Homo sapiens: one gene and its partners. The protein of the gene in region 2 interacts with the protein of the main gene of each other region in a biochemical or structural test. Each region holds a gene or a part of one and is shown on either strand. Other genes may lie near its edges.

The links.
Region 1: the proteins of RBX1 (region 2) and UBE2G1 form a complex in vitro, tested with the Homo sapiens proteins (8 studies listed by BioGRID).
Region 3: the proteins of RBX1 (region 2) and CDC34 form a complex in vitro, tested with the Homo sapiens proteins (84 studies listed by BioGRID and IntAct, with this or other methods).
Region 4: the proteins of RBX1 (region 2) and UBE2L3 form a complex in vitro, tested with the Homo sapiens proteins (13 studies listed by BioGRID, with this or other methods).

The regions. Positions count from the first base shown.
Region 1 is NC_000017.11:4,363,655-4,370,949, forward strand, and holds the start of UBE2G1 (ubiquitin-conjugating enzyme E2 G1), read right to left. Parts: upstream 3,022-7,295; 5' UTR 2,663-3,021; coding exon 2,617-2,662; intron 1-2,616. UniProt on the Homo sapiens protein: Accepts ubiquitin from the E1 complex and catalyzes its covalent attachment to other proteins. In vitro catalyzes 'Lys-48'-, as well as 'Lys-63'-linked polyubiquitination. May be involved in degradation of muscle-specific proteins.
Region 2 is NC_000022.11:40,954,368-40,961,390, reverse strand, and holds part of RBX1 (E3 ubiquitin-protein ligase RBX1), read right to left. Parts: intron 1-7,023. UniProt on the Homo sapiens protein: E3 ubiquitin ligase component of multiple cullin-RING-based E3 ubiquitin-protein ligase (CRLs) complexes which mediate the ubiquitination and subsequent proteasomal degradation of target proteins, including proteins involved in cell cycle progression, signal transduction, transcription and transcription-coupled nucleotide excision repair.
Region 3 is NC_000019.10:527,630-534,765, forward strand, and holds the start of CDC34 (ubiquitin-conjugating enzyme E2 R1), read left to right. Parts: upstream 1-4,130; 5' UTR 4,131-4,302; coding exon 4,303-4,479; intron 4,480-7,136. UniProt on the Homo sapiens protein: E2 ubiquitin-conjugating enzyme that accepts ubiquitin from an E1 ubiquitin-activating protein, and catalyzes its covalent attachment to other proteins by an E3 ubiquitin-protein ligase complex. In vitro catalyzes 'Lys-48'-linked polyubiquitination.
Region 4 is NC_000022.11:21,605,700-21,612,722, reverse strand, and holds part of UBE2L3 (ubiquitin-conjugating enzyme E2 L3), read right to left. Parts: intron 1,867-7,023; coding exon 1,680-1,866; intron 1-1,679. UniProt on the Homo sapiens protein: Ubiquitin-conjugating enzyme E2 that specifically acts with HECT-type and RBR family E3 ubiquitin-protein ligases.

The DNA of each region.
Region 1 (7,295 bases), on a different chromosome or scaffold from region 2:
TGTAAGAATTCAGAGAGGCCGGGCCCGGTGGCTCACGTCTGTAATCCCAGCACTTTGGGAGGCTGAGACGGGCGGATCACGAGGTCAGGAGATCAAGACCATCCTGGCTAACACAGTGAAACCCCGTCTCTACTGAAAATACAAAAAATTAGCCGGGCGTGGTGGCGGGCGCCTGTAGTCCCAGCTACTCGGGAAGCTCAGGCAGGGGAATGGCGTGAACCCGGGAGGCGGAGCTTGCAGTGAGCCGAGATTGCGCCACTGCACTCCAGCTGGGCAACAGAGTAAGACTCCGTCTCAAAAAAAAAAAAAAAAAAAAAAAAAAAGATGCAGACGGGCACGGTGGCTCACGCCTGTAATCCCAATACTTTGGGAGGCCCAGGCAGGCGGATCACCAGGTCAGGAGTTCAAGACCAGCCTAGCCAGCACGGTAAAATCCCATCTCTACTAAAAATACAAAAAATTAGCCAAGCTTGGTGCCGCGCGCCTGTAATCCCAGCTACTCGGGAGGCTGAGGCAGGAGAATCACTTGAACCCAGGAGGCAGAGGTTGCAGTGAGCCGAGATCGCGCAACTCCACTCCAGCCTGGGCAATAGAGTGAGACTCTGCCTCAAAAAAAAAAAAAAAAATGCAATAAAGTTCTTTTTTTTTTTTTTTGAGACACAGTCTCGCTCTGTCGCCCAGGCTGGAGTGCAGTGGCGCCATCTCGGCTCACTGCACATCCGCCTCCCGGGTTCACGCCATTCTCCTGCCTCAGCCTCCCGATTAGCTGGGACTACAGGCGCCCGCCACCACGCCCGGCTAATTTTTGGATTTTTAGTAGAGAAAGGGTTTCCCCGTGTTAGCCAGGATGGTCTCGATCTCCTGACCTCGTGATCCGCCCGCCTCGGCCTCCCAAAGTGCTGGGATTACAGGTGTGAGCCACCGCGCCCGGCCCTTCTTTTTTTTGAACAGAGTCTCGCTCTGTTGCCCAGGCTGGAAAGCAATGGCGCGATCTCAGCTCACTGCAACGATGCCTCCCGCGTTCAAGCAATTCTCCCGCCTCAGCCTCCTGAGTAGCTGGGATTACAGGCGCCCTCCGCCACGCCCGAATAATTTTTTGTATTTTTAGTAGTGACGGGGGTTTCACCACTTTGGCCAGGCTGGCCCTGAACTCCTGTCCTAAGGTGATCCGCCAGCCTCGGCCTCCCGAAGTGCTGGGATTACAGGCGTGAGCCAGCGCGCCCGGCCTCAGTGCTTTTCCAGCACATAATTTTTATGAGTATCCTGTAGTATCATTAGAACTTCTCCATTTACTGCAAGCTAACTCCCCCTGAGCATCTAGAACTTTAATACTTGTCCAAACCTGCTTGCTCATGGTCTAATAATAAACCCAATTATACAATCTGTAAGAACCCCTGACAACCTTTTCCTTAAGAAGCCATAAAGGTGATTTAACGAACACCTCAAACTCTTAGTAAATGTATTTCAAAAACAGATTTCATCACTCCAGTCTTTGGCTTCTGCTGAGGGCTAGAGGCTACTGGTTTTAGAGTGGGTAGGGGGAAGATCGCTTGAACTGAGAATGACACACGCCGGGTGTTGTACAGCAGGGGTAAGTGCTGGTTCATTTCTCTTTAAATCTGGCAGCACGTGGGGCTGCATTGTGAAGCCACCAACCCGCCTCCCCCCTTCCACTCCGCACACGGACGTCTCCACTGCGCATGCTCCGCGCACACAGTCCTAGCAGAGTAGGAGCCAACCCCCTAAAAAGTCAACCTGGAAGCCGCAAACGGCCGGAGGCCGGGACAATGGGGGAGGGGGGCCGCAGGCTCCTCGGGGAGGCCGACCCGGCCGCCGCCCCGGGCCAGAGCCTGCGGGCGCAGCTCCGGGGTTTGCAGGCCTGCGCAGCAGCCGGAATCGCGGCGAGCACAAAGCCCGGAGCCGGCCAGCGAGCGGCTCTCCCCGCGGCCCGCTCCTACCCTCCCCCAGCCGGGCGGCGCAGCCGGAGCCCGTGCCAGGCGGAGGCAGGCGAGGCGGCGATCCGCACTCCGCCAGGGTCTCCGGCACCCTCGCGCCCGCGTGGAGGCCGCCGAGGCCAGCGCTTTTGTTGTCGGCCCCAACTCCGCGGACCCAGCGCCGCCCGGGGAGAAGTTTTGTGCGCCTCACCTATCCCGCCAGGGCCGGTCCCTTCCGCCCGCCCTCAGACACCGAGCCGGGGACTCGCAGCCGCACTGGGTCCGGACGCTCCAGCCGGCCCCGAAGGTCCGGCGGCCCCGGCAGCACCTGAACCCGGGACCCGCCCCTCCAAGCTGGCGGCCCCGGCCTGGGGACCCGCACACAGCCCCTCCCCCGCAACGTCCTACAGAACGGTGGGGGAGGGGACCTCCTCCTCTCCGACCCCCCGGGCGCCAGGCCCAGTCCCTGGGCCGGAGCTGGGTCGCGTCCCCGCCCCCAGTGCCCTCCAAGAGCCGGGCGAGAACGGCTGGGCCCGGCCGGGACCGGAGCCTCGAGGTCCCCACCCTCGCAGGCCCGGGCCCCTTCGGCAGTACGGCCGCTGGCCCGGGAGGAGAAGAGGGACTGGGCTGCGGCTGTCCGCGATCGCGGCCGGGCCCGGCGCCCCGCCGCCCGCCTGCTCACCTGCCAGCTGTCTTCGCAGTAGCAGTGCCGACTGCAGCTCCGTCATCCTCCCTGCCGAGGGCCCGGGCTGGCGCCGGGGCTTCCGAAGGGCTGGGGACAGGCTCTGGGGGCGGCTGGAGCGGGGTGTGCCGAGGAACCCGGGCCCCGCGACCGGAGCGCCGGAGCCGAGGAAGGCCGGGCTGAGGCGGCGGGAGCGGCGCCTCGCTGCCGGTGCGAGTCCGCTCGCTTCAGCTCTTTTCACAGCGACTCACGCCCGGAAGGGGAGGGTGCCCGGGCTGCCGCGGCGCGCACTGGGACTTCGCTCGCCCGCTTCCCTCCTTCAACCCGCCCGTCGGCCCCACCGGTGCCTTCCCCCGCCACTGCCTCACTGCGCGCAGGGCCGCTCGGCGCAGGCGCGCTGAGACTGCCGACTTGGGAAGCGTCCCGCCCGCTAGCCCGACCCCTCGGCCTCCCGCCCCGCCCCCGGCGGCGGAACCCCGCCCCTTGAGCGCAGTTGTCCCGTCCGCCGCCATTTTGGGAAGGTCGACGCCCGGCTGCCAGCCCAAGCCTCCGCTGGTAGACGCCCCGCGGACGCCATGACAAAGAGGTCGCAGAGGGTCAAATACAGCCTCTGGATTGAAGCAGTGGATATAGGAGCGAAGAGGCCAGAAGAAGTGGTAGATGTCTAGTCCTTGGCGAGCGCCCAAAAGCCATCTAACACTGCCACATGGTGTGCGAAGTAGGAATTGTTAGAAAGCCGAAGTTAGTACTGGTGTGCCCCATTTTAACCAAACATCAAAATAGAGGCAATATATGATGATAACTCACTTTACATGAAGAGTGCACAAAAAAAGCCACCGCGTCCGGCCCTATTATTATTGAGCCACCGAGACCGGCCCTGTTATTATTATCATTTATGGACGGCAATTCTCTCTGTCGCCCAGGCTGGAGTGCAGTGATCATAGCTCACTGCAGCTTGGAACTCCTGGGCTTAAGGGATCCTCCCATCTGAGTCTCCTTAGTATCTGGGATTACAGGTACACACCACCATGCCCTGCTATTTTTTTATTTGCTTTATAGAGATCGGGGGGTTTGACGGGGCGCGGTGGCTCATGCTTGTAATCCCAGCACTTTGAGAGGCCGAGGTGGGCAGATCACCTGAGGTCACGAGTTCGAGACCATCCTGGCCAACATGGTGAAACCTGGTCTCTACTAAAAATACAAAAATTAGCCCAGCCTGGTGGCAGGCGCCTGTACTCCCAGCTACCAGGGAGGCTGAGAAAGGAGAATTGCTTGAACCTAGGAGGCAGAGATTGCAGTGAGCCGAGATGGTGCCACTGCACTCCAGCATGGCCGACAGAGAGAGACTCCGTCTCACAAAAAAAAAAAAAAAGGAGGGGGGGGCCAGAGGTCTCTCTGTGTTGCCCAGGCTGGTCTCAAACTCCTGGGTTCAAGCAGTCCTTCCAACTCGGCCTCCCAAAGTGTTAGCATTACAAGTGTGAACCACTGCCCCCTATCAAATAGACCAAAGGGACCATTTTGATATTTCACTTTACCAAATCAAGGAAATTTACTTCTATTCCTAGTTTCTTTCTTTTTTATTTTATTTATTTATTTATTTATTTTTTGAGACAGCCTTGTTCTGTCGCCCAGGCTGGAGTGCAGTGGCGTGATCTTGGCCCACTGCAACCTCTGCCTCTCAGGTTCCCGAGTTAAAGCAATTCTCCTGCCTCAGACTCCTGAGTAGCTGGGACTACAGGCGCACGCCTCCAGGCCAGGCTAATTTTCTTTCGTATTTTAGTAGAGATGGGGTTTTACCATGTTGCCCAGGCTGGTCTCGAACTCCTGAACTCAGGCAATCCGCCTGCCTCAGCCTCCCAAAATGCTAGGATTATAGGCAAGGGCCACTGTGCCCGGCCTATTCCTAGTTTCTTAAGATTTATTTTTTGTAAAAAAAAAAAAAAAAAAGATTTATTTTTTGTAATAATTTCCAAATCTGGTGAAAGATCAGGGCTGGATAAAGGTTTAGAAATTGAACCTAATCCTTAAACAGTGGGAGGCCCCTGAAAAGTTTTAACTAGGAGTAGAAAAATAGCAGACTTGCATTTTGAATGTTTTGCTGTGGCTGCAGAGAATTGATGAGGGAGGGAGGGTCAAGACCAGTGCCCTGCAGGCTGTGGTGGCTCTCATCTGTAATCCCAGCTCTTTGGAAACTCCACGCAGGAGGATCACTTGAGGCCAGGAGCTAGAGACTAGCCTGGGTGACAGAGCAAGACCCTATCGCTACAAAAAAGTGTGTTTTGTTTTGTTTTGAAACAGTCTCCCTCTGTCGCCCAGGCTGGAGTACAGTGGCACAATCTCAGGTCACTGCACCTCTGCCTCCCTGGTTCAAGTGATTCTCGTGCCTCAGCCTCCTGAGTGGCAGGGATTACAGGCCTGTGCCACCATGGCTGGAGAATTTTTGTATTTTCGGTAGAGACAGAGTTTCACCATGTTGGCCAGGCTGGTCTTGAACTCCTGGGCTCAAGTGATCCACCCGCCTCAGCCTCCTAAAGTGATGGAATTGCAGGCATGAGCCACTATGCCCAGCCCAAAATATTTTTTTAATAAACATTTTAAAATTTTAATAAAAATTTTTAAAGCCTGGAGACCCTTATGGAGATTGTGGCAGTAACTAAGACTTGGATTAAGGAGTGTCCATAAAATATTTAGGCCTTGGTGGCCAGGCGAGGTGGCTCACGTCTGTAATCCCCGCACTTTGGGAGGCCGAGGCGGGCAGATCACCTGAGGTCAGGAGTTCGAGGCCAGCCTGACCAACATGGAGAAACCCCGTCTCTATTAAAAATACAAAATTAGGGCCTAGGGCAGTGGTTCACTCCTATAATCCCAGCACTTTGGGAGGCCAAGGCAGGTGGATCACGAGGTCAGGAGGTCAAGACCAGCCTCACCAACATAGTGAAACCCCGTCTCTACTAAAAATACAAAAATTAGCTGGGCGTGGTGGCCAGCTAATAGTAGTCCCAGCTGCTTGGGAGGCTGAGGCAAGAGAATCGCTTGAACCCAGAAGGCAGAGGTTGCAGTGAGCCGAGATCGCACCACTGCACTCCAGCCTGGGCGACAGAGCAAGACTCTGTCTCAAAAAAAAAAAAAAAAAAAAAGGCGAAATTAGCCGGGCGTGATGGTGCATGCCTGTAATCCCAGCTACTTGGGAGGCCGAAGCAGGAGAATTGCTTGAATCCGGGAAGGGGAGGTTGCTGTGAGCTGAGATTGTGCCATTGCACTCCAGCCTGGGCAACAAGAGTGAAACTCCGTCTCAAAAAAAACAAAAAACGAAAAAACAAAGAATATGTAGGCCTTGGTGATCTATGGGATATAGGAAAGAGCAGGGAGCACCACAGGTGACTCTCCTGACCCGGGTGACTGGGTGCCATTGGTATGACAGACCAAGTCCAAGGAGTGGGTCTCGCTTTGTTGGTTAGGCTGGTCTCAAACTGGTCTCAAGCGATCCTCCCGCCTTGGCCTCCCAGAGTGCTGGGATTACACGCGTGAGCCACTGCACCTGGGCCCTCTTGCTTTTGAGGTTAATGCCATCCAGCTGCAGCACTTGCCACTCCCCTTTGGTGCTGTGACCTGCAGACCCATTCATCATGGACTTTTCCTCCTGCCTCAGAGCCCTTCTCTTCATTCTACTCCAGCCCTCCACCTTGGGGACCTAATTACCCACATGAATGACCCGTCCGGTACCCCTGCCTCTCACCACTTGACTTCCTCTCCTTCCCTTCCCACCAGCTGGCCTCTCCGTGTTCCCGTGGGACAGTCTCGCCACCCAAAATTCCACCACACCCCAGTACTTGGTTTCAAGCCACGCACCCTGACCACCATTCCTTATCCTTCCAGCTTACTGGCTTTAGCGTTCACGCCACACAGCTCTTCCACACCAACAAGACCCCATTCTGTGTACCACTTTTTTTTTTCTTTTCTTTTTAAAACAGAGTCTCGCTCTGTCAACCAGGCTGGAGTGCAGTGGTGCGATCTCGGCTCACTGCAGCCTCCGCCTCCCGGGTTCAAGTGATTCTCCTGCCTCAGCCTCCCGAGTAGCTGGGACTATAGGCGCGTGCCACCATGCCTGGCTCTTTTTTTTTGTATTATTGGTAGAGATGGGGTTTCACCATGTTAGCAAGGATGGTCTCAATCTCCTGACCTCGTGATCTGCCCACCTCGGCCTCCCAAAGTGCTGGGATTAGAGGTATGAGCCACCGCGTCCAGCCCTGTTTACCACTTTTTTACTATCTGTCATTTCCTTCCTGTTCTCCTCTTCCTTCTCTTCTGAGCTTAGAGAGTAGTCCATTACTACAACCCTTCTCTTCATACGCCCTCAACAAACTTGGCTGTTTGTCTCCTTCTCTCACCATTTTAGTGCCTGGCTGATCCTCAAGCCTGAATGAACGCTTGCACACCCAACTGTCTAACTATTGCTTTATTTAACAAACATTTACTGAGCAACTGCTATGAGCTAGACACAATCCTAGGACTCAAGGTCTAGGTGTAAACTACACTGACCAGGTTCCTACCTCATGACAGTAACATCTAATGGGACAGAATAGTCAAAAAGTAAACAACAGCCAGGCGTGGTGGCTCACGCCTATAATCCCAGCAATTTGGAAGGCCGAGGTGAGTGGATCACCTGAGGTCAGGAGTTG
Region 2 (7,023 bases):
GAATTGGGTCAGGCACAGTCGCTCACACCTGTAATCCCAGCACTTTGGGAGGCCAAGGCAGCAGGATCACTTTAGCCCACGAATTCAAGACCAGGCTGGGCAACACAGCAACATCTCATCTCTAGAAATAAAAAAATTAGCCAGTTGTGGTAGCACATGCCTGTGGTCCCAGCTACTAAGGAGGCTGAGGCAGGAGAATGGCTTGAGCACAGGCGGTTGAGGCTGCAGTGCACCATGATCGTACCACTGCACTCCAGCCTAGGTGACAGAGCAAAACCTTGTTATCAAAAAAAAAAAAAAAAAAAAAAAGGCCAGGCACGGTGGCTCGGCCGGGCGTGGTGGCTCATGTCTGTAATCCCAGCACTTTGGGAAGTCGAGGCAGGCAGATCATCTGAGGTCAGGAGTTCGAGACCAGCCTGGCCAACATGGCGAAACTCTGTCTCTTCTAAAAATACAAACAATTAACCGGGTGTGGTGGGTGGCGCATGCCTATAATCCCAGCTACTAGAGAGGCTGAGGCAGGAGAATCGCTGGAACCTGGCAGGCAGAGGTTGCAGTGAGCTGGGATCGCGCCACTGCACTCTACCCTGGGTGAAAGAGCGAGACTCCATCTTAAAAACAAACAAAAAAGGGATCTAGGGTCTATGCAGTGTATTTAAGAACTTATTGAAACTGGAATACACTACTATAATTAAAAGAATGGCAGAGAAAAGTAAATATGATGTCCTTTAAGCTGGATCCTCTAACTTAGAGGAAGACTATGTATTATAAAATTAGCTAAATAAGAGCCACAATTATTAAAGTGAAAATCAAAACTGTTTCAAGGTACATTATCGTGTTTAAATTTGATCTGGGTCTTTCTTTTGACTGTGGCCATGGCACTACTAACCTAAAGAACCCTTCAGGCTCCCTTCACGGTAGAGTCCTTTCCTTCGTCCCTGCCATACCTGGAACATGCTCCTCCTCCTATCACTCTCAAGTCCTCCCCACCCTTCAAGACCCAGCTTAAATCCCTACTTCTTGACTGAAGCTTTTCCTGACTCTTCCACCCTGAGTCATTTTCCTCTCCTTCAGGCACTCTTAACACATCAATTATGAGTATCTCTTTACATACCTGACCTCCCTCCTTCCCCCTCAACTCAAAGCTCCCACAGAGCAGGGACCTGGTCTTTCTATGCCAAGTGCAAATTAGGCTCTTGGTACTTGAACAAGCAAACAAAAACTATTTCTATAAATAGAAGAAATACGGGACAAATACAGATTCATTCTTTTTTTTTTAGACAGTCTCGCTCTGTTGCCCAGGCTGAAGGGCAGTGGCACAATCTCCACACTGCAACCTCCACCTCCCGGGTTCCAGCTATTCTCTCACCTCAGCCTCCCAAGTAGCAGGGATTACAGGTGTGCACTACCATACCAAGCTAATTTTTTGTATTTTTAGTAGAGACGGGGTTTCACCATGTTGGCCAGGCTGGTCTTTAACTCCTGACCTCAAGTGATCTGCCTGCCTCGGCCTCCCATGGTGCTGAGATTACAGGCGTGAGCCACTGCATCCGACCAAGATTCATTCCTTTTTTTCTTTTAGACAGAGTCTAGCTTTGTCCCCCCAGGCCGGAGGGCACTGGTGCAATCTTGGCTCACTGCAACCTCTGTCTCCCAGGTTCAAGTGATTCTCCCGCCTCAGCCTCCCAAGTAGCTGGGACTACAGGCATGCGCCACCATGCCTGGCTATTTTTTGTATTTTTAGTAGAGATGGGGTTTCCCCACGTTGCCCAGGCTGGTCTTGCACTTCTGGCCTCACACGATCCACGCGTCCTGGCCTCCCAAAGTACTGGGATTATAGGCGTGAGCCACCGAGCCCGGCCAGATTCATTCTTTACTACAAAATTCCTAACAAAGAACAAAAATGTATAGGAGGGATATTACTGCAATCTAGAGTACCAAATAAGAAGGGATATAGCAGGGAAAATGATTAAATATTAGTGTAAAATGTGCTCAATACAAAAGTTTTCCAGCTTTTGTTGCAGAGAGTAAGTACAGGGGTTGAGTCCAGTTAGTTTAAACGGGCAGGAACTGTTCACTGTCAACCCAGAACAGGTTGACAGTGGCACATAACGGGTTCATGTCACACCCCTGCCAAGGCAGAAGCCTATCATGTGATTTATAAAGCTTGGGGACCTTTAAGCTTTGATAAAAACGCTGTACCACCAAAGAACTGTTAAGGAAGCAATGGCTTCATCTCAAGAGTAGACAGATTACACTTTCAAAACACTGACGGGGCCGGGCGTGGTGGCTCACGCCTGTAATCCCAGCACTTTGGGAGGCCGAGCCGGGTGGATCACTCGAGGTCAGGAGTTAAAGAGACCAGACTGGCCAACATGGTGAAACCCTGTTTCTACTAAAAATACAAAAATTAGCTGGGCATGCTGGTGCATACCTGCAGTCTCAGCTGCTCAGGAGGCTGAGGCAGGAGAATAGCTTGAACCTGGGAGGCAGAGGTTGCAGTGCACCGAGATCATGCCACTGCACTCCAGCCGAGGCAACAGAGCAAGACTCTGTCTCAAACAAACCAAACCAAACCAAACCAAACCAAACCAAACCAAACCAAACCAAACCAAAATACTGATGGATCTGTAGTTTTAGGTAGATGCTAACATCTTCTGGGCCAAGGCTGGGTCTAAGATGATGAAGATTCCCCATCATCAGGAATAAGATTACCAGAGGTAATAGAGAAAATAAAACCTCACATATTTGATTTTTCAGCAACTCCTTAATACAACCAAGGAAGGAGACAGTGTAAAATAAAATAAATACAAAGGTACAGGAGGGCATGCAGAATCAATATGGACTTAAAAGAGGAAGTCTTCAGAATCCGACTAGGGCACAGCCATAATCATTCTTATTTACTTAGAGCTATGTATATAATTACTCATTTAAGGTCAGACAAGATTTATTAAAATACAACCGTTGCTAAATCTAGATTCTTACTTTCATCTTTAACAAAAATTGTCTTTATAAAAATGATAAATCCATTTTTTTCTTTACTTGCTAAGTTCTTTTCCCATATAAATCCTTTTTTTTTTTTTAAGTTATGGCACTCAGACTTCTCCTCAGTGTCTATAATAAAAGTGTGTGGCCAGGGGCAGTGGCTCACACCTGTAAGCTCAGTGTTTTGGAAGGGCAAGGCAGGAGGATTGCTTGAGTCCAGGAGTTCAAGACAAGCCTGGACAACACAGCAAGACCCAATCTCTACAAAAAATTAAAAAATTAGCAGCTAGATGCGGTGGCTCACACCTGTAATCCCAGCACTTTGGGGGCCGAGATGGGTGATCATGAGGTCAGGAGCTCGAGACCAGCCTGGCCAACATAGTGAAACCCCATTTCTACTAAAAATACAAAAAATTAGCCAGGTGTGGTGGCGGGTACCTGTAATCCCAGCTACTCGGGAAGCTGAGGCAGGAGAATTGTTTGAACCCAGAAGGTGGAGACTGCAGTAAGCCGAGATCGTGCCACTGCACTCCAGCTGGGTGACAGTGTGAGACTCCGCCTCCAAAAAAAAAAAATTAGCTAGGTGTGGTAGTGCACGTCTGTGGTCCCAGCTACTTAGAGGCTGAGGTAGGAGGACTGCTTGATCCCAGGTCAAGGCTGCAGTGAGCTATGACTGTGCCACTGCGCTCCAGCCTGGGCACTTGAGTGAGACCCTGTCTCTAACAAAAAAATACATAAAAATAAAAAATAAACAGTGTTTCTCTTTTTGAGATAGGGTCTCACTCTCTCACCTAGGCTGGAGTGCAGTGGCAAAATCTTGACTCACTGTCACCTCTGCCTCCCGGGCTCAAGGGATCTTCCCACCTCAGCCTCCCAAGTAGCTGGGACCACAGGCATAAGCCACCATGCCTGGCTAATTTTTTGTAGAGACAGGGTTTCGCCATGTTGCCCAGGCTGGTCTTGAACTCCTAGGCTCAAGCGATCTGCCCGCCTCAGCCACCCAAAGTCTTGGGTTTACAGGTGTGACCCACCTCACCTGGCCAAGAGTGTCTTTTTTTTTGAGACAGAGTTTTGCTCTTTTTGTCCAGGATGGAGTGCAATGGCAGGATCTCGGCTCACTGCAACCTCTGCCTCCCAGGTTCAAGTGATTCTCCTGCCTCAGCCTCCCATGTAGCTGGGATTACAGGTGCGTGCTACCACGCCTGGCTAATTTTGTATTTTTAGTAGAGATGGGGTTTCACTGTGTTGGCCAGGATGGTCTGGATCTCCTGACCTCATGATCCCCCCGCCTCAGCCTCCCAAAGTGCTGGGATTACAGGCATGAGCCACCGCGCCCCGCCTAAGAGTATGTTTCTTTTTTTTGTTGTTGTTGAGATGGAGTCTCACTCTGTCACCCAGGCTGGAGTGCAATGGCGCGATCTCAGCTCACTGCAACCTCCGCCTCCTGGGTTCACGCCATTCTCCTGCCTCAGCCTCTCAAGTAGCTGGGACTACAGGCGCCCGCCATCGCACCCAGCTAATTTTTTGTATTTTTAGTGGAGACGGGGTTTCACCTTGTTAGCCAGGATGGTCTCGATCTCTGGACCTTGTGATCTGCCCGCCTTGGCCTCCCAAAGTGCTGGGATTACAGGTGTAAGCCACCACGCCTGGCCTAAGAGTGTGTTTCTTAAAGGTAAAGACTTGAGGTCGGACATGGTGGCTCACACCTATAATCCCGGCACTTTGGGAGGCCAAGGGGGGTGGTTTTTTTGAGGCCAGGAGTTTGAATGGGTCATGTCTGTAATCCCAGCGGTTTGAGAGGCCAAGGCGAATGGATCACCTGAGGTCAGGAGTTTGAGACCAGCCTGGCCAACATGGTGAAACCCTGTCTCTCATAAAAATACAAAAAATGAGCCGGGTGAGGTGGCCCACACCTGTAGTCCCAGCTACTTGGGAGGCTGACGCAGGAGAATCACTTGAACTCCAGCCTGAGCGACAGAGACTCTGTCTTTAAAAAAAAAAAAAAAAAAAAGGTAAAGACCTGCCCGATCTCACTCATTGTTTTATCCTGGTGCCTACCAGGATGCTCAGGATATATTCATTGGATAAATAAAAGATAGGACTTAGAAAATACTTTCATAAGTTTTTGTTATAGGATTTCAATATCCTACTTCATCTGACATTCAAAATATATTATGAAACAAAACAGGTATCCCACTGAAAGCCTAATATGATGTCTCAAGCATTTCACTCTAAGAGAAGACAATATAGATCGCCTTTGTCTTCTGTGGTCCTTTTAAGAAGTACATTCTCTCATATCCAGAGACACATATACACTGACTTAAATATAGAGAAAAAAAAATCAGGGTTATATAAAATCATTAAAAATCATTAACTATTTTCAAAACAGAGCCCCAAGAAAGTAAAATTTTCTCTGGGTATAACTCCTTGTGAAAATGCAAGGCCGAGAAACTGGCAAGCATGTAATCAAAGACCCCACCCAAACACATTTGAAACCCTGCATATGTTTTTCTGTGATGGGTTCACGGCATCTATATTAAACATTATGGTAGGTGCTGATCTTCCTTGGCTGTAGTGTGAAGAGATAAACAGTGTCAAAGCTCAAAGAAGCCAAGGGCAATACATGACCAGTATAAGCCATGACTGCTTTCCAACAGAAAATATTTGATTCGTGCTTTTCAAGTTGAAAACATCTGAGCAAGTTTAAGATAAGATCTAAAGCTCAACTATGGGTTAGTCTTACATTGCACAATAAAGTAGTTATTAACCACATGTGACTACTGAGCACTTGAAATGTGGCTAGTCTGAATCCAGATGTGCTGTAAGTGTAAAATACACAGAATTTCAAAGATAGTACAAAGACAGAATGTAAAATATCTCATTTTTTTTTTACATCAATTACATGTTGAAGTAAAACTATTTTGACTATATAAGGTTAAATAAAATACATTAATTTCACCTTTTTATTTTCTTTTTACTTTATGAATGTGGATACTAGAAAATTTCAGGCCAGCCACAGTGGCTCACGCCTATAATCGCAACATTTTGGAAGGCCAAAGTGGGAGGATCACTTGAAGCCAGTTCGAGACCAGCCTGGGCAACAAAGCGAGATCCCGTCTCTGAAAAAAACAAAAAAAAAAAAAAAGGAAAAAGAAAATTTAAAATTATATACGTGTTTGTACTGGCTTACATTCAGATTGGACAGTGCTGGGTTAGACAAAACCAAGGAAGAGAAGAGGTGAAGAATATTCTAGGCAAAAAAGACTAGGCTATTTAAGGGCTCTAAAATAGAGCATGGACACTTAAGAATGGAAAAGCAGGCCGGGCATGGTGGCTTATGCTTGTAATCCCAACACTTTGGGAGGCAGAGGCACGCGGATCACCCGAGGTCAGGAGTTCGAGGCCAGCCTGGCCAACACGGTAAAACTGTGTCTCTACTAAAAATACAAAAATTAGCTGGGTGTGGTGGCAGGTGCCTGTAATCCCAGCTATTGAGGAGGCTGAGGCAGGAGAATCACTTGAACTCGGGAGGCGGAGGTTGCAGTGAGCTGAGATCACGCCACTGCACTCCAACCTGGGCGACTCCATCTCAGAATAAGGAAAAAAAATGGAAAACTGGCCGGGGCCATGGCTGCTTTGGCCACCGTGGTCAGTTAAAAAAAAAAAAAAGCATCCAGGTAAACTAACAGAGTGAGCAGGAGTGACTCAAGACAAAGTTGTAAAGGCAGGTGAGTGATCTGAAAAATAAGTTCCTATAATTCCATTTCTAGAAACTTAAAGTTTCTTTCCTCCATTTCTGGCCTCAGTAACAAATCATTTTAGTTCCCGGATGAAAAAGTAACCTCAACTGTTCCTGGTGTGATCAACATTCTTGTCCCTTCTACTGTAAGGACAGGAAATCAGTTCATCAAAGACTATAATCAGATCACTATGTGCTGACCACTACATGTAATAAAATATGTGGAGATTTAAATGAAATTTCTTTAGTGCAATTAATTATTTATTTAGATGTTGGCAATGATTTCCTTTTTATTATGT
Region 3 (7,136 bases), on a different chromosome or scaffold from region 2:
ACAGAGCAAGACGCCATCTCAAAAAAAAAATAATTAAATAAATAAATTAATTAAATAAACCTGAGACTGGGTTTAATGTTTGAGCGATATTTCCAAGGTCGTGGCAGAAACTAGATTTGAATTTAAGGTTCTTCTCTGCCATGTGATGGAAAACCTAACTCAAACTGGCTTAATTAACGAAGAAGGAATTTATTTTTACTTATTTATTTATTTTTGAGATGGAGTTTCACTCTTGTTGCCCAGGCTGGAGTGCAATGGCGTGATCTTGACTCACCACAACCTCCGCCTCCCAGGTTCAAGCGATTCTTGGGCCTCACCCTCCCGAGCAGCTGGAATTATAGGCATGTGCCACCACGCCCGGCTAATTTTGTATTTTTAGTAGAGACAGGGTTTCTCCATGTTGGTCAGGCTGGTCTGGAACTCCTGACCTCAGGTGATCCACCCTCCTCGGCCTCCCAAAGTGCTGGGATTACAGGTGTGAGCCACGGCGCCCGGCACGAAGAAGGAATTTAACCTGGTTGTGGTGGTGTGCACGTGTGGTCCCAGCTACCTGGGAGGCTGAGGTGGGAGGACTGTTTGAGCCCAGGAGTTCAAGGCCAGCCTGAGCAACAGGAACGGGGGCAGGGAGGGAGGAAAGGAAAATAAACTAAAAAGGCTGGGCGTGGTGGCTCACGCCTGTAATTCCAGTACTTTAAGAGGCCAAGGCAGGAGGATCACTTGAGGCTGAGAGATCGAGACCAGCCTGGCCAACATGGTAAAACCCCATCTCTACTAAAAATTCAAAAATTAGCTGGGTGTGACAGTGCACGCTTGTGATCCTAGCTACTTCGGAGACAGGTGGGAGGATTGCTTAAGCCTGGGAGGCAGAGGTTGCAATGAGCTGAGATTGCGCCACTGGACTCCAGCTTGGGTGACACAGAGAGACTCCATCTCAACACAAACGAACTAAGAGGCAAGAATTCATGAGCTTGCATCATTGGAACATCCAGGGGAGGTCAGGTAACAGCATGATGCAGGATCACTAATAGGATTATCAACGTTTCCCCTCTCATCAGCCGGCTCGGCTTTCCTGTGATGCCGCCTTTGTTCGGAGGCCCCGTGGTGACACCATGACCCCGTAACTCCAGCCCCAGGTCCTTCCAGCTCAGCCACCCCAGCACTGTGATCCCAGAGAAATGTCCCAGAGCTGAATCTCATTGGACGTCAGGAGTCACATGCTTGTTCCTGAACCAATCATTGCAGCCCAGGGTGGGGGCCCTGGGAACTGATGGGATGGCCCCTCCCTGCAGCCAGGGCTTGCGTCAGTCCAATTCGAACCCGTTCCCACAGAGTAGGGAGCCCCCAAGCAGGCAGGTGGAAGCCCCTGGTGTCCACCGCTCCCGGGTGCTGTGAGCCTGAGCCTCCCTGGGGGTCGGGGCCCTGTGGGACCAGCTGGAGGGGCTTGAAAATCTCCCCAACCCAGGCCGGGCGCGGTGGCTCACGCCTGTAATCCCAACACTTTGGGAGGCCGAGGCGGGCGGATCACGAAGTCAGGAGATCAAGACCATCCTGGCTAACACGGTGAAACCGCTTCTCTACTAAAAATACAAAAAATTAGCAGGGCGTGGTGGCATGCGTCTGTAGTCCCAGCTACTCAGGAGGCTGAGGCAGGAGAATCACTTGAACCCGGGAGGTGGAGGTTGCAGGGAGCCAAGATCGTGCCACTGCACTCCAGCCTGGGCGACAGAGCAAGACTCCTTCTCAAAAAAAAAAAAAAAAAAAAAAAGCGAGAGAAAGAAAACCTCCCTCACCCACACAGTGCTTCCTGGGATGTGGGTGTACGGAAGAAGAGAGATCTTGGGAGCCCTTAGAGAAGGAATCGTGGTTAATTCTAATTAGCATTAATTTACCCATGAGCTGCTGCCTGCCGGCTCCATGATGCTGGCAATATATCCACGACCTGTGGCACGGAAGAGACTGAGGCTCACAAAACCCTGGGAACCTTGGTGAAGGGGCCACAGCCAGAAGGCCCCACTAGTCCCGAGACCCTCCTTTTACTCCAGGCCCCCAGGGTGCCGGGCAGAGGGGCCTGAGGGAGGAGGCCCAGAGGCCCTTACGGGTGAGGACGCCTCGGCCTCGGCCCTGGACAGCTCTGGAAGTGACCGCTCGGCCCAGAGCTCTTTCTTGGATCCCTCCCTCCCTCTCCACTCCTGATGCTGTTTTCCTTTCCCCAGACAGGTTTGCCTGCTGGTCCTCTTCCGGGGACCAGACTCATGAAGCCGGGGCCAGGTGTTGGGGCACCTGCGGGACAGAGTGGCCCTGGTCCCAGACTGGTTTTTGTTTTTGGTTTTTTTTTTTTTTGAGACGGAGTCTCTGTCGCCCAGGCTGGAGCGCAGTGGCGCTATCTAGACTCACTGCAAGCTCCGCCTCCCGGGCTCACGCCATTCTCCTGCCTCAGCCTCCCGAGTAGCTGGGACTACGGGCGCCCGCCACCACGCCCAGATAATTTTTTGTATTTTTAGTAGAGACGGGGTTTCACCATATTAGCCACAATGGTCTCGATCTCCTGACATTGTGATCCGCCCGCCTCGGCCCCCCAAAGTGTTGGGATCACAGGCGTGAGCCACCGTGCCCGGCCTGTATGTTGATGCAGCTGTGTGTACCCAGGGCATAGCAACAATGCCACTGGCACAGTCCGAGGGCAGGGCCACCCGTCACGGGCACGACTCAGGGGAGGCTGGGCTGCCCCGTCCTCACCACGGCCAGTTCTCCCGACCAAGCTTCACAGCAAGGAGCATGTGGGTGTCTGGGCAGCCACTGAGCCAGGTCAGAAGTCAGGTGGGGTCACAGTGATGCCCGGAATCAGCTGGGGTCAAGACTCAGGTGGGCTGGGCGCGGTGGCTCATGCCTATAATCCCAGCATTTGGGAGGCCGACGCAGACGGATCCCTTTATTAGTCCAAACTGCATCCTCCCCTTCCTTTCAAAACCTAACAACACACTTGAGGTCAGGGGTTCGAGACCAGCCTGGCCAACATGGTGAAACCCCATCTCTACTTAAAATACAAAATTAGCCGGACGTGGTGGCGGGCACCTGTAATCTCAGCTACTCGGGAGGCTGAGGCGGACACTAGCTTGAACCCGGGAGGCGGAGGTTGCAGTGAGATTGTGCCACTGCACTCCAGCCTGGGCCACAGAACGAGACTCTGTCTCATTTAAAAAAAAAAAAAAAAAAAAGACTCGGGTAGGACAAAGGTCAGGCTGGGAGGAGGGCACAGCCAGGCTCGGGCTCAGCTTGGGGTGGGGGCTCCGTGGGGCTGGCGCCTCTCCCGGGTCAGGTGCTGAGCCGATGCTGGCCGGCGTAGGCCTCTTTCCCAGTTTCTCTGGGGGGCAGGAGCACCTTGCCAACCTCTGATGGCTCCAGCGCCTGCACTCGCCTCACACCACATGGTGACTTCAACGGGGACCAGGGAAGCCCTCGCCCCTCCCACCCCTCAGAGCCCTCCCCGACCTCGCCCACTTCTCAGAGCTCCCGCTGTCGGGGGAACCGAGGCAGCGCCGCGCCTGGAAGCCAGGTCTGCGGATCCCGCCTCGCTCCCGCCCCTTCCTCCCTTCCGCGTGGCCAGCGCGACCCTAGGACAGACTTCGCGCCCGTCCCCTGCACAGACGGGGAAACGGAGACGGGGACGCGGGGTCGCGCCGGATGGACCGGCCCTGCCCCTCCGGTCCCGGTCAGGACCCCGCGCCGCGCCCCGTTCACCGCCCGCGGCCCCGCCCCGCGCCGGCACGTCACAAAACAACCCCAAAGCCGGGGGACCGGGCCGGTGACGGCGCAGAGCAGCCCTGCCCGCCTCCTTGCGCACAGCGTCCGCGGTGCTGGTCGAGCAGGGGGCGACGGCGGCGGCCTCGGGGATCGGAAGAGCCCGGGGCTGCGCGCTCGAACCCTCCCTCCCGGCGGAGGCGCTCGGCGCCGTAGGCGGGACCGGGGCCGGGACTCCACCTCCCGGCGTCCCCTGCGGCCGGGCGCGCAGGCGCAAGTCGGACCTGGCCGCGGAGCGCAGGCGCAGTCGGGGCCAGGCGGTGCGCGCAGGCGCAGCGGGGGGCGGGGCGCGCGGGCCCGGCCAAGGCAAGCGCCGGTGGGGCGGCGGCGCCAGAGCTGCTGGAGCGCTCGGGGTCCCCGGGCGGCGGCGGCGGCGCAGAGGAGGAGGCAGGCGGCGGCCCCGGTGGCTCCCCCCCGGACGGTGCGCGGCCCGGCCCGTCTCGCGAACTCGCGGTGGTCGCGCGGCCCCGCGCTGCTCCGACCCCGGGCCCCTCCGCCGCCGCCATGGCTCGGCCGCTAGTGCCCAGCTCGCAGAAGGCGCTGCTGCTGGAGCTCAAGGGGCTGCAGGAAGAGCCGGTCGAGGGATTCCGCGTGACACTGGTGGACGAGGGCGATCTATACAACTGGGAGGTGGCCATCTTCGGGCCCCCCAACACCTACTACGAGGGCGGCTACTTCAAGGTGAGCGCGGCGACCCCCGCCCGGGTCCCGGAGCCCACGAGCGACCTCGGGCGCCGGGAACCAGCTCCCTGCCCCGCGGTCCTAGCGCTGTTGCTGGGCGGGCCCCGAAGCCTCCTGGCTTGGGCTCGTTTCCCTTCTATGGCCACGTTCCCCCACCCAGCTCTGCCCGGCCCCCTCCTCGGACCGTCTCGGGGACCTTCAGCCTCTGCTGCAGTCCTCGAAAATCCCCAGTTCCCTTCAAGGCATCGTCCGGTCCCCTGTTAGGCTCTTGGCCCCCGGAGGGGTGGCCGGGGGCCCTCCCTGTAGCATCTGGGCGTGGGGCTCTTGCCCACCTCCTCCTTGGCGGGGGCTGGACCCCGGCTGCCTCCCCCTCCGCCCCTGCGAGAAAGAGGGAGCGGAGCCCAGGCCGCGCCGGCCTTTCAGCTGCCCTCCCCGCCCTCCCCGGAGGAGACAAAGAGGCCCCCCCAGACCCCGTAGCTGCTATTGTTGGGGAGCTGGGCCCGTGAGCGGGGGAGCGAGGCCAGCCTGGGGGTGGCTGGCGCGGCCACTCGCTCAGTCTCCAACAAAGGCCCGGATGAGCCTTGGCAGCCAGGACCCGCCTGGAAAGCGGCCACCCTTGCCAGTAGCAGCCGGCCAGGCGCCCTGGGCTCCATCCCCTGCTTTATGTAACCTGCGCCCTCGGGAAGGCCGAAGTAGGGGCGTGCCTCCCACCTGCTCCCTGCAGCTCTCTCCAGGCCTCCCGGCTCGGGCCCGCGTCCCGGACCCCGACCTCAGAAGCTCCGGGCTCGCTCATCCCAGCTGGTCTTGGCCTTTCTCAGAGTCCACTGAACAGGTGGCTTCTTGGGACCCAAACCCCGAGTTCTGGGCCGTTTCTTCTGCCCTCTGGCGGTTTAATTCCAAGCAGTTTCTGGATGTTTTTGTTGTTGTTGGGAGCGGGGAGGCTGTTTCTGTCTCATGTGAAAAGGACTCAGGCCAAAACCAGGGCAGTTTTCTTGATCTCACGATCCAGACGTGACCTTTGACTTCTTTTAGCGTTCAGGGACCTCGTTCTTGGGGCCAGAGGGACAAAGCGAGGGGCCCTGTGTGAGCGGTGGGGAACGAGCACCCTGTCCAGGAATCTCCCCCTCCCACCGTCACTTCCTGCCAAGAGCCTGGACACGACACGACACTGCAGGGCCCGGCCCGCTCTGCCCCGGCCAGCTGCGGGCGTGGGGCCGAGGGACCGATGCCTCCCGCACGATATGTGTCTGCTCTCCGAGCTAATTAGTGTCTGAACCGCACCCGCTCAGCGGCTGTGAGGGCAGCAGCCTGGTCTGCTGGGGGCGATTCCTGAGCAGAGAGTGGGACGCCCGTGGGTTCTGCATCTGGAATCCTGCGTCCCCACACAGGGAACAGAGTTTGGGTCTCGAGGTTGCCAAATGGTTTTAGCAGCTCCTCCGCCAGCCCCTTCTGTCTGCTTGGGGGAGCAGCTGGCTGAGGAGCCGCAGCCCCACCTCGAAGCCAGGCCTGTGAGGCGGCTGCTGTTCTGGAAGGAGGGGATGGGGGTTTCTGGCTGCTGTGCCCACCAGACCGGTTGCCAGGGATTGTGGGCAGAGCTTCCTGGGCCAGCATTAGGGGATAATCCGGTTTTCCGGATTTCCCAGGGAGGGGGCCTCTAGACATCTGCCACAGGGTCAGTCCTCAGAAGCCAGTGTTGAGACGGGGGTGCTGCCACCCACGAGGACTCTCCCTTCCCGCTGTGCCTGGGAGGGAGTTGGGGGAGCGTGGAAATACAGAACCTGCTGAGTGCCCAGGGCCGCTGCTGCCCAGCCACTGCCTGCAGCTGCTGTTCCTTCAGGAGCCAAAGTGAGCCCTGGGGCAGGGGCCGCCAGAGAGAGCCCTCCACAGCCGACTTGCTGTCTGCCCTTGGCAGGGCGCTTTCCTTTTCTGAGCCTGGGTTTGCTCCGGGGAAAAGACATTCTTAGAGGTGCCCAAAATAAGAGGCTCATTGGGACTTGGTGGGGTTTGGTACAGATGAGGCCTTGGCTGTTGTCAAGGATTGCCGCCTGAAACCCAGCACCAGGCTTGGGGGGCCTGAAGTCTTGGGGAACCGCAGGACAGTTCTGAGACTGAAGTTCCAGCCTTGCTCTGTGGCCGCGGCCAAGTCACTTGCCTTACGGGGCACCAGTGAGTTCCCTGTCAAACAGAGGACACCCCCCAAGACACCCCGCGTGCCCTCCCTGTCCAGGAGGGGCCCGTCCACGATCCAAGACCCCCAAAGTGCCCTGCCTGTCCGGGAGGGGCCTCGCCCACAATCCAAGACCCCCGAGTACCCTCCCTGTCCAGACCTCGCCCACGATCCAAGACCCCCTGAGTGCCCTCCCTGTCCAGACCTCACCCACGATCCAAGACCCCCTGAGTGCCCTCCCTGTCCAGACCTCGCCCACAATCCAAGACCCCCGAGTACCCTCCCTGTCAAGGCCTCGCCCACGATCCAAGACCCCCGAGTGCCCGCCCTGTCCAGACCTCGCCCACGATCCAAGACCCCCGAGTGCCCTCCCTGTCCAGACCTCGCCCACGATCCAAGACCCCCGAGTGCCCTCCCTGTCCAGACCTCGCCCACGATCCAAGACCCCCGAGTGCCCTCCCTGTCCAGACCTCGCCCACGATCCAAGACC
Region 4 (7,023 bases), about 19 Mb from region 2:
ACAGTGATCTGGGATGGCATCACTGCACTCCAGCCTGGGTGACTCCGTCTCAAAAAAAAAAAAAAAAAAAAAAAAAAAAGAAAAGAAAAGAAAAAATCGGCTGGGTGCGGTGGCTTACGCCTGTAATCCCAGCACTTTGGGAGGCCGAGGCGGGCGGATCACGAGGTCAGGAGATCGAGACCATCCTGGCTAACATGGTGAAACCCCGTCTCTACTAAAAATACAAAAAATTAGCCGGGCGTGGTGGCGGGTGCCTGTAGTCCCAGCTACTCGGAAGGCTGAGGCAGGAGAATGGCGCGAACTCGGGAGGCGGAGGTTGCAGTGAGCAGAGATCGCGCCACTGCACTCCAGCCTGGTGACAGAGCGAGACTCCGTTTCCAAAAAAGAAAAGAAAAGAAAAGAAAAAACCAGGCACTGAGAAGAACTGTGTCAAGCTTTTATAAACATCAGCTTGTACACAAACAAGGACCAAGCCCACTAGAGACTGTTCTGCCCTGACTGAATGTTTAGCACCCACTCCTTTCTTCTACTCAGTGTGGGAGTCTAATGGGCACCTTTCATGGTGATTACTTCCAACAAGTGAGGCTTGATTTTTCTTGCGCAAGGCTTTGAACTCCACCTTCCAAGGCTTTTTTCAATCACTAAAACAAGGGACCTCCTCAATCCCTGTGCAGGTCAAAAGTTCAGCTGAGTTATTCCCACAGGGACTGGTGGCACCTCAGCCATACTTTGCGTGCACCTGGTAAGGTAGGAGTTCTCTGGACTCCGTCTGATCTGGCATCAGGAAGGACCCATGAGCCCCTACCCTAGAGCAGCACCCCTAAAAGAAACCCTCCACTTGCAGCCTCTCAAGTGCCAGCTTCATCCACTCTAATCTAAACAGACTTTATACTGGTTTAGGTACTTAAAAGGAAGCCATCAAAATATGAGATTAGGACTTCAAAAGAAAGTCTAGAATTAAATGAAAACCAGACACAGTCCATAACAAACTAGTCACTTCTAGGGGACAAAAGGGAGGACAACCACAATACTGACTCAAATATTCTTCCCAGAAGAATGAGCATGTTTATGTTCACACAGCCACACACAGACATGTGCACCACGCACAGCCACATCCAACTCCAGGGAATCCCAGGCCCACTAAAGCCAACTACGTGCCTTCATCTGGGAATACTGCCCTTACATCTGCCTCTGTCCCTCCCCTCACATCACCCGAGCAACTAGGCTCTAGCCCATGCCCTTCCTATAGCCTGGAAGGCCCTCTCCAACCTCCTTTCCTCCTTCAAGTCTGAGTTCAGGCACTAACTACTGCATGAGGCCACCTTAAATCCCACTCTCCCTTCCCCTTGTAGGCAGCCCCACAGTCCTTCATCCCTTCCAGGGACCAGTGCCTGCACCTCTCTGCACCAGCAGCAAGCCACTGGGCTTGTCTGTCCATGTGTGTTCCCACTGTGGATGGCAGCCCAGGGCTGAGCACTGGAAAGGCCTCCTCAAACCCTATACAGGTCAAAAGTTCAGCTGAGATGAGCCATTCCCACAAGGTCTGACAGGACCTCAGCTACATTTTTCGTGTACCTGAAAGATTCTCTGGATTCTGTCTGATCTGGTACCAGAAGCCCCCACCCCAGAGCAGCACCCCCAAAGACCCCCTCCGAGGAAGACACAGGCACATGTCTTACCTTGGTCGGTTTTGGTTGCTGGCTTCCAGTTTTCGGCACTAATTACTGGCAGACAGACCTGCCCCTTTTCGTCGATGTTTGGGTGATAGATCTTTGTTTTAAATGTGATCTTCGGTGGTTTGAATGGGTACTCTGCTGGAAAGTTGATTTCGATTCTGAAGGCTCCCTTATCATATGGAGGGTTGTCCTGGAAGGAAAGAGAGATCAAAATGAACACACCATGGTTCATAAACCTATGGCCAAGACAGGAATGTTTTAATTGTTTATCTGAAAAATCAATTTATTTCAAGGGATTCAAGTATCAACTGAAGCCCTGCCACCTTCAGGACAACCCAGCCACCCAAAAGTATTTCTAGAGCAAGCTATCTGCTAAACTGAGAAGGGGCTTGAGATTGATGTCCTGGTCTCTTCATACTTTTTTAAAAAATAGACTTTACTTTTTAGAACACCTTTAGGTATACAGCAAAACTGAGAGGAAAGGACAGAGAATTCCTAAATACCCCCTGCCCCTGAACACACACAGCTTTTCCCACTATCAGCATCCCTCACCAGAGGGGCAAATTTGTTACCACCAATGAACCTTTTACCTTAACACATCATTACCACTCAGCTTCCCTAGTTTATGTTAGGGCTCATACTTGGTGTTGCACATTCTATAGGTTTTGTGTGGTTATCAGACATGATAGCTGGAATCATGCAATATGTAGCTGCTATGTCTGAATGTATCTCCCCAAAAATCTTATGTTGAAACCTAATCACCAATGTGATGGTATTAGGAGTTGGGACCATTGGGAAGTGATTAGGTCATGATGGGATTGGTGTCCTTATCAAAGAGGCCCCTGAGAACTGCCTTGCCCTTTCCATCATATAAAGACACAGTGAAAAGGCACCATCTATAAACCATGAAGCCGGCCCTCAGTTGCCACTGAATCTGTTGGCACCTTGATCTTCAGACTTCCCAGCCTCAATAAGTGAGAAATAAATTTGTCGTTAGAAGCTATTTGTTCTTTTTATTATTATTATTTTTTCAGAGTCTGTTGCCCAGGCTAGAATGCAATGGCACGATCTTGGCTCACCGCAACCTCCGCCTCCTGGGTTCAAGCAATTCTCCTGCTTCAGCCTCCCAAGTAGCTGGGATTACAGGCACCCGCCTCAATGCCCAGCTAATTTTTGTATCTTTAGTAGACATGCGGTTTCACCATGTTGGCCAGGCTGGTCTTGAACTCCTGACCTCAAGTGATCTGCCTGCCTCGGCCTCCCAAAATGCAGGGTTTATAAGCGTGAGCCACTGTGCCCAGCCGTTACTTGTTTTTCCCCCACTTCATACTTACTTATTTATTTTTGACAGGGTCTTGCTCTGTTGCCCACTGGATGGTGGCGTGATCTTGGCTCATTGCAACCTTGACTTCACAGGCTCAAGCAATCCTCCCACCTCAGCCTCCCAAGTAGCTGAGACTACAGATAGGCACCACCACCCCCAGCTAATTTTTTTGTATTTTTATAGAGACTGGGTTTTGCTATGTTGTCCAGGTTGGTCTCAAACTCCTGGGCTCAAGAGATCTGCCTGTCTCGGCCTCCCAAAGTACTAGGATTACAGGTGTGAGCCACTGCACCCAGACTCATTTCTTCTTAGTGTTGAATGTCATTTGTCTAGATATACCACAATTTATTTATCCATTAACCCACTGAAGGACATCTTGGTTGCTTTCAAACCTTAGCAATTAATGAATAAAGCTGTTATAAGCATCTGTGTGGATACAAGTTTTCAATTCATTTGGCTAAATACCAAGGAATGTAATTGCTGGATCCAATGGTAAGACATATGTTTAGTTTTGTAAGAAACTGCCGGCCGGGCGCGGTGGCTCACGCCTGTAATCCCAGCACTTTGGGAGGCCAAGGCAGGTGGATCACGAGGTCAGGAGATCGAGACCATCCTGGCTAACACAGTGAAACCCCGTCTCTACTAAAAATACAAAAAAAAATTAGCTGGACGTGGTGGTGGGCGCCTGTAGTCCCAGCTACTCAGGAGGCTGAGGCAGGAGAATGGTGTGAACCTGGGAAGCGGAGCTTGCAGTGAGTGGAGATTGCGCCACTGCAGTCTGGCCTGGACGAAAGAGCGAGACTGAGTCTCAAAAAAAAAACAAAACAAAACTGCCAAACTGGGCCAGGAGCAGTGACTCATGTCTGTAATCTGAGCACTGTGGGAGGCCAGGGAGGGAGGATCACTTGAGGCCGGGAGTTCAAGACCAGTTTGTGAAACATAACAAGACCCCATCTCTACAAAAAAAAAAAAAAAAAAAAATTAAATATATTAGCCTGGGCCAGGCTCAGTGGCTCACACCTGTAATCCCAGCACTTTGGGAGGCTAAGCTGGGTAGATCACTTGAGGTCAGGAGTTCAAGACCAGCCTGGCCAACGTGGTAAAACCCTGTCTCTACTAAAAATACAAAAAAATTAGCAGAGCGTAGTGGTGCACGCCTGTAGTCCAGCTACTTGGGAGGCTGAGGTAGGAGAATTGCTTAAACCCGGGAGGCAGAGATTGCAGTGAACTGAGGTTGCGCCACTACACTCCAGCCTGGGTGACAGAGCAAGATTCCATCTCAAAAAATAATAACAAAATAAATATATTGGCCTGGCATGGTGGCATGTGCCTGTAGTCTCAGCTACTTCAGAGGCTAAGAAGGGTGGACTTCTTAGGCCCAGGAGTTTGAGAATGCAATGAGCTGTGATCACGCTTCTGCACTCCATTTTGGGCAAGAGAGAGACTCAATTTCTTTGTTAAAAAGATTTTATGAATAAATAAATGAAAGAAACCGCCTAACTTGTCTTCCAAGGTGGCTGCACCATTTTGCATTCCCACCAGGAAAGAGCGAGAGTTCCTGTTGCTCTACGTCCTCAGCAGCATTTGGCAGTGTTCTGGATTTTGGTCATTCTAAGAGATGCACGGTGTTATTTATTGTTGTTTTCTTATTATAGAGTTTTAAGTGTTCTTTGTCCTTTAGACAGTCCTTTATCATATTATGTTTTTGCAAATATCTCTTGATCTTTTCTGAAGATACAAGTAGAGTTGTACCAGAGGTAAGTTACAACCCAACCAGAATACACTGTGAGTACTAGAAGTCCAAATAACTGCCTTGATGCCAAGTCCTGGCCAGCTCAATCTTCCCAGGGTAGAAACAGTAGTCAGCTCAATGGCTGGACCCTGGGGACCTGAGCTGGTCACTCAACAGGTGATCACCAGGCAGGGCCAGCACCATGCCCTAGCCCCTTGCCCCTAGAACCACCCGAAAACCACCTTTGGGGCCTGGACACTCTGATGGCCCCAGGAGCCTGAGAGATGACTCAGCAAAGAGTCTTTTGGCCTCTCCCCAACCCTACCTATCTCCAGAGCTGGGGAAGCCCTTCCCATTGTACTCCCTTTTCCCTCACCCAGGTCTGCCATGGCACTTGCCATGGCACACCCAACCCAAAGAAATCCAAGCTTCACAGAGAGCCCAAGAACAATCTTTTTTTTTTTTTTTTTTTTTTTAAGACGGAGTCTCGCTCTGTCGCCCAGGCTGGAGTGCAGTGGCGCGATCTCAGCTCACTGCAACCTCTGCCTCCCTGGTTCATGCAATTCTCCCACCTCAGCCTCCTAAGTAGCTGGGATTACAGGTACCCGCTACCCTGCCCGACTAATTTTTTTTTTTTTGTATTTTTAGTAGAGATGGGGTTTCACCATGTTGGCCAGCCTGGTCTTGAACTCCTGACCTCAGGTGAACTGCCGGCCTCGGCCTCCCAAAGTGTTGGGATTACAGGAGTGAACTACTGCACCTGGCCCCAGGAACAATCTTGACAGCCCTACACCCCAGCCCCATATCTTCAAGCCGTGGCCTAAGTACGCACTCCAGTAAACAGAGCTCCTCTGCTGGGGAGCAAGGCTGGCGTGCGCCAGTTCTCCACATTCTCCTACATCCAAGCCCTGCCCTGGGAGGGGAGGCATGGAGCAAGGGCCTTAAAGGATGGATAAGATGACATAAGGCTGAGGAGTGGAAGAGGCCTCCCAGGCAGAGAGGACTAAAGACTAGATGGCAGGGACTTGGAAGGAATAGCATAGAGCAAGACAGGAGGCTGCGGGCAGGCAGTGTGGCCCCAGGGCTACTGAAGCCACGCGTCCAGGTCTGAATCACCACCGAGCAGCTGAAACCACTGTCAGCATATTCATCTGTGGGGAGTCACCCAGGCTGGAGTGCAGAGGTGCAATCACGGTTCACTGCAGCCTTGACTTCCCGGGCTCTAGCAATCCTCCCACCTCAGCCTCCCAAGTAGCTGGGACTACAGGCATATGCCACCACACTCAGCTATTTTTTTATTTCTTATAGTGATGGCGTCTCACTATGTTGTCCAGGCTGGCCTCAAACTCCTGAGTTCAAGTGATCCTCCCAAAGTGCTGGAGTGCTGGGATTATAGGAGTGATGCACCATACCCAGCCAGCTTTTAGTTTTCAAGAGGAGAATTAAATGGTGGTGGTGGTGGGGGGAAGTAAGTAAACATCATTGTCATTTACACTGCTTGAGCCATGTAAAAATAGCTTTCCCTCACTGGGTGTGGTGGCACACTGGGAGGCTGAGCCAGGAGAATCACTTGAACCTGGGAGGCAGAGGTTGCAGTGAGCCAAGATTGTGCCACTGCACTCCAGCCTGGGCAACAGAGTAAGACACACACACACACACCACACACACACACACATACCACACACACGCGCGCGCGCACACTTTCCTGCATGACTTTTGGTTGGTGAAATCTGCTAAAGGTCTTCACTGATTGTCCAGGACTGACCAACCTCCCCTGTTCCCCACTGTGGGCCAGGTCCTGTCCGAGGAGCTGGGGTGAAGCATGAATGAGGCCATCTGGCCCCAAGTTAGCAGGTCTAGCCTCAGACTTTGCCTCTTCCTAGCTTAAAGAGTCTGAGAATGTTCCTGTACATCTGTAAAATGGGAGTAGCAACAGCCTGTACCCAGAGTTTATGATGAGAGATAAGGACTATAAAGTCCTACATGCCTGACACATGGGCAAAGCTCAAGAGAAGCAGATTTGGCTGGGTGCAGTGGCTCATGCCCGTAATCCCAACACTTTGGGAGGCTAAGGCAGGAGGATCACAAGAGCCCAGGAGGCTGAGGCTGCAGTGAGCCATGATCACACCTCTACACTCTAGCCTGGGTGACAGAATGAGAACCTGTCTCAAAAAAGCCAAAAACAGACTGGGCGCAGTGGCTCATGCCTGTAATCCCAACACTTTGGGAGGCTGAAATGTGCAGATCACTTGAGGCCAGGAGTTTGAGACAAGCCTGGCCAACATGGTGAA